Regions from separate parts of the Homo sapiens genome. Here region 2 is linked to region 1. A link means that fine-mapping ties the variant in region 1 to the expression of a gene that starts in the linked region. Tissue or cell type: testis. Region 1 holds a variant in brackets; the other region holds the start of a gene. All regions are shown on one strand. Distances are from middle to middle.

Region 1 (2,767 bases):
GAAAAGAACCGAAGTCCATTGATGACGGGGAGAGAGACGGCAGGTTCGCTTTGGAGATACTCATGAGATATCCAAGAGTAGATGCCCAGAAAGTTTAGGCTTAAAGTCATATTTGAAGCCCAAAAGGAGAGGCCAAGCTTGCCTACAGAGTACGTAGGGTAAAGAGAAAAAATACAATAAAACCCCAAGGAAATGACATATTGTATGGAGAGAGAGAGAGAGAGAGAGAGAAAGAGAGAGAGAGAGAGGAGATCATGAGAAGTCTCCGAAGGAGCCCAAAAAGGAATGGCCAGAAAGGCAGCAAAGAAAGAACCCAGGGAGGCTGTGGTGTCTCGTAAGTCAAATTTTCAAGAGGTAGTTATGCCCTCATGCTTGCGGAAAAATAAAACACGTTAGCTGAAAATTGAAAAGTGTTATCTGTCTGCAAGCATTTAAGCAATCTTGGTGAGAGATGGAGGGCTCCAAAGTCAAACAGTAGTATGTTAAAGAGGGAATAGAGCTATGAGAAGTGGGTCCAGCAAGAGATGATAACTCTTTAGAAACTTACTGGTTGTGAGGACAAAAAGGTCCTTAGGGCTGTAGGAGATATCTTTCTTCATAAATGTGGATGATGTTTAAGTATGCTTAATTGTTGGAAGGAATAAGCAAAGAGAGATAAAGAGTGGGAGATGATAAAATCTAGAAGAGATCTGGGCATAGTGGTTCACACTTGTAATCCCAGCACTTTGGGAGGCCCAGACGGGTGGATCATCTGAGGATGGGAGTTCAAGACCAGCCTGGGCAACATGGTGAAACTTCGTTTCTACTAAAAACACAAAAATCAACTGGGTGCGGTGGTGCATTCCTGTAATCCCAGCTACTTGGGAGGCTGAGGCAGGACAATGGCTTGAACCCAGGAGGTAGACTTAGCAGTGAGCTGAGATCGCGCCACTGCACTCCAGCCTGGGTAGTGTGTGTGTGTGTGTGTGTGTGTGTGTGTGTGTGTGTGTGTGTATGAAGGAATAAATCCACCCAGCCATGGTGCTCAGGGGGCAGGAATGGGAAGACTGGAGCAGAGGGAAATTGAGAGGCCCTATCTCCAACACTAGGGTATGGGCTTTCTGCTGTGAGAGGGGAGAGAAGGAGGAGGATGAGGGAGGGAGGTGGGG[A/G]TAGGAGAACTACTTCCAACATGGGGACAGACTTCCCACCAAGAGGGGAGAGAAGGAGAAGGGTGAGGGAGGGAGGTGGCAGTAAGGGACTGGAAAACCATTAAGGAGTTTTGGAATAACCACTCAGAGGATTTACTGCCCTGGAGAGAAACCTTGCAGGAGTGCTCATCAGTGCAGAAGACTCATCAGCACCTAAAGAACTTGTGTTTGTGGTGCCTCCAGTTTGCAAGCTTTGCAAAGTTTGCGTGATGTTTCTCCAGTGGTCCTTGCCAACTCAGAGTGAAAATAGAGGTGGGGAATGAAGAGATTGCTTCAAGAATAAGAATTTGCCTGGGTGAGGCATAAACAAGCAAAGGAGGAGTGTCATAGAGGAGACTCAGTGGCATGAGAATGGTTGAAACAAAAGACCATGGAGATGAGATGGAGAAACAAAGGGAGAAAGCACTGCTCAGAAGGAAAATAGAATGCTCAGAAGATTCTATTCAGAATCTCAGAAGATGCTCAGAAGGCATCTGTATTAGTTCGTTTTCACACTGCTATAAAGAAATACCTAAGACTGAGTAATTTATAAAGGGAAGAGGTGATAGGGTTTGGCTGTGTTTCTACCCAAATCTCATCTTGAACTGTAGTTCCCATAATCCCCACGTGTCATGAGAGGGATCCAATGGGAGGTAATTGAATCATGGGGGCAGTTACCTCCATGCTGTTCTTGTGATAGTGGGTGAGTTCTCATGAGATCTGATGGTTTTATAACCATCTTCACTCTCTTCACTCTGCACTTCTCCTTGCTGCCACCATGTGAGGAAGGATATGTTTGCTTCCCCTTCTGCCATTATTGTAAGTTTCCTGAGGCCCCCCAAGCCCTGCAGAACTGTGAGTCAATTAAACCTCTTTCCTTTATAAATTTCCCAGTCTCAGGTATGTCCTTATAGCAGCGTGAGAACAGACTAATACAAGAGGCTTAATCGACTCACAGTTCCATATGGCTGAGGAGGCTTCAGGAAACTTACAATCAGGGCAGAAGGTGAAGGGGAAGCAAGGCACCTTCTTCACAAAGCAACAAGAGAGACAGCAAGCAAGTGAAGGGGGAAGAGCCCCCTATAAAACCATCCGATCTTGTGAGAGCTCCCTCACTATCATGAGAACAGCATGGGAGAAACCTCCCACATGATCCAATTACCTCCCTCCAGGTCCCTCCCTTGACATCTTGGGATGACAGGTCAAAATTTGGGTGGGAATACAAATGATATCAGCATCCAAGACCCAGAAGTCTCAGAAAAATAGAAGTAAATGTACAAAAATGAGGAAATCTTTAAGAGAGCTAGGATAAGACATTGGACCTGAGAATGAGATGGTTCTAGCATTTAAGATTTGAGAGAGTTGTAGTTTTGGGGAGAAGGTATGGTGCACCTAGGGGCGGAGATGGTCCAGCACCTGGCTGGCTGGCTAAAGTAGGGTGAGGTCACTGAGATGGGCAAGTGGATCAGTCATCTGTAACACAACAGTGATGGGCTACAGATCATCCTTGTTAAAGCTGAGTTCACCCTTCATAATGACAATATTTGGTGGTAGAGGAGGATGTTGACCCAGTTCTCATGATTCTTGGTGAATGGCAAAAG
Region 2 (2,767 bases), 31 kb after region 1:
TTATTACAAACTGCATGCCTATATCAAAATATCTCATGTACTCCATAAATAAACACACCTATTATGTACCCACAAAATTAAAAATTAAAAAAGGAATAAAAATAAAAATGTACAACAAATTTTTATAAAGCAAAGTTTTAAAATACCTTTTATAATAGTATGAAAAATATTAATAGGAATAAAATAAACAATGTGAGAGGCATATTCTGAAAACTACAAATTATTACTGAGATAAAATAGAAAAGACTTATATACATTGAGAGGTGTAACATGCTGAAATAACAATATATGCACATGGAAAATATAAACCTCATTTCTTAGCTCACATTATACATAAAAATTAACACTTCTAGAGGAAAATAGAAAAGAAAACCCTGTGATCTTGGCCTAAGTAAAAATTGCTTACATAAGACACAAAAAACACAAACCATAAAAGAAAAAATGAATAAATGACTTATCAAAATTAGAACTTTTAGTCTTTGAAAGACATGTCTAAGAAAATGAAAAGCCACAAACTATGAGAATATATTTGCTAGAAATATCTGAAAAAGGAGATACACCCAGAATATATAAGGAACTGGCACAACTCAAATATAAGAAGATAATCAATCTAAATGGGCAAAAGATTTGAACTGGCCTTTCACCAAAGAAAATATTATGAATGTCAATTAAGGACATGAACAAATGCTCAACATCATTAGTTTCTAAGGAAATGCAAATACTACCACAACAAGACACTACTGTACATACACAAGAATGGTAAAATTAGAAAGACTGACAATACCAAGTGTTGGTGAGGATGTGGAGCAATTGGAATGTTAAACATTACTGGCAGGAATACAGCCACTTTAAAAAATAGAAAGTTTCTTATAATGTAAATATCTATTTATCATATGGGCCAAAATCTCACTCCTAGATATTTGTCCAAGATAAGTGAGAACATATTAACACAAAAACTTGTACCTAAATGTCCATAGCAGCGTTATTCAGAATGGCCTTAAGCTGGAAACTACTTGCATGTCTAAAACTGGAGCATCGATAAATCATTTTATGGTATATACATACGGTGGAATACTACTCTGCAATATAAAGAAAAACACACAGCAAATCAAACACACTACAAAAATCAAACTAATCAAACACACAACAAAATGCCTAACTCTCAAAAACAGCATGCCAAGTAAAAGAAGCCAGATATAAGAAAGAAGCTGGTACATATTATATAATTCCACTTAGGCGAATTTCTAGAAAAAGAAAAACTATAGTGACTGAACTATCAATACTCACTAGGAGCTGTAGGAGATTGAAAGCAAGGGGCCAGGGACATGAAGAAACATTTTGGGGTGATGCATTCTAAATCCTGATTATGGTGGTGGTTCTGAGGTAGGAGGTGGGACTCGACTCCAAAGGTTGGGCTTGAACACTGGACCAAATTGAGAAATAGCTGAAACAGGGGTGGAGTGGAAGCAGCTTTCCTTGAGACATGCCTACCATTGTGCCATGTCAGTTTGCCATTGCCATGGCCACACTCCATGGCAACACCCTGCCCCTTTCCATGGCAATGACCCAGTGACCTGGAAGTTGCCACCCTTTTCCTAGAAATTTCTGCATAATCTGCCACTTAATTTGCATGTAATTAAAAGTGGGTATAAATATGTCTGCAGAGGTGCCTCTGAGCTGCATGTCCAGGCACACAGTCTGTAGGGTGGCCCTGCTTTGCAAGGAGCAGTCCCTCTGCTGCTGTGCATGGCCTTTTCAATAGAAGCTGCTGTCTAATACCACCGGCTCCCCCTTGAATTCTTTCCTGGGCAAAACCAAGAAACTTCCCAGGCTAAGCCCTAGTTTTGGGTCTTTCCTGTCCTGCATCATTTCCACAAAGGTACACATTTTCCAAAACTTAACAAAAGGTCAGTACACTTAAAGCAGATTGCCTATATTGCATGTAAATTATACTTCAATAAAAATAATTTTTAAACAGGGATGATGGACGTTAGGGAAGCCTTGGGACAAGAAAGTGGACTTGGGCCAAGGACCTCCTGGAACATCTGTCTAAACAGATGTTTTCTGTGAAGGGTAATGAGGATCCTCTTTAAAGAAAGCTGTCTGGGCAGAGAGGTCGGTTCATAGATGGCTTCAGGCAGTGAAATGAGTGCTGGGTTTTTCCAGATGAGCTGGGTTTAACCACAGCTCCTCTCTTAAAAAAGACATGAGGGTTGCCAAACTCCTTGTCTTCCCTGAGCCTTGTGTTTTGTGTCCCAGCCTGTATCATGTGTATTGAGCTCACCCTGCTCTGCTCAGACGGCTGTGCTCACCATATAAGTTGAGATGGGTTGAAAAAGCTCTACAAACTTCAGAATTCTGTGCACACGTGAAAGGAGACGCAAGGAAGCTAGGGTCCAAAGTGGCAGGATGAGTTTTAGGTTTTAAAATCGTGTGAGTGCACACAATTTTAAAATTGCTCTTTGCATTGGGCAGGAAGGGAAAAGAGAGGCTCCTTTCTTCTCACTGGGTATTTTGAACACTTATCTTGGGCTTCAGTGAGTTTGTTTAGATTTAAAGATATGTTGTCTGCGACCCTCCAGATCAAAGAGAACGAAGCTCCTACGTATGGAGGCCCTTACGGGCCAAACTAGATAATGTCATTATCCTATAAACAGGTGATAACGGCAGAGCCAGGCTCATCTCAAACTAATCCAGTTCTAATCCCTTCAAGGGTCTGGAAAGATGTCAGAGAATAAAAGGCCACTGCCACTTAGCAAGCTGTATC

Evidence for each region. PIP is the estimated chance that this variant, and not a neighbour inherited with it, causes the effect. A credible set is the group of variants that fine-mapping cannot tell apart.
Region 2: it holds the start of LINC02841, and the variant in region 1 is the best candidate, but not a certain one, in a credible set for the expression of LINC02841 in testis (GTEx, PIP 0.87).

What each region holds. Positions count from the first base shown.
Region 1 is chr19:31,549,607-31,552,373 of GRCh38, reverse strand. The region is part of intron 2 of LINC02841 (long intergenic non-protein coding RNA 2841); the gene reads right to left. Among named protein-coding and RNA genes, the nearest start is that of LINC02841, 31 kb to the right of the region's middle. The variant A/G (reference allele first, on the strand shown) is at 1,149.
Region 2 is chr19:31,518,845-31,521,611 of GRCh38, reverse strand. It overlaps LINC02841 (long intergenic non-protein coding RNA 2841), which reads right to left and starts at 1,425. Exons shown (of 3, transcript NR_184026.1): 1 at 1,288-1,425.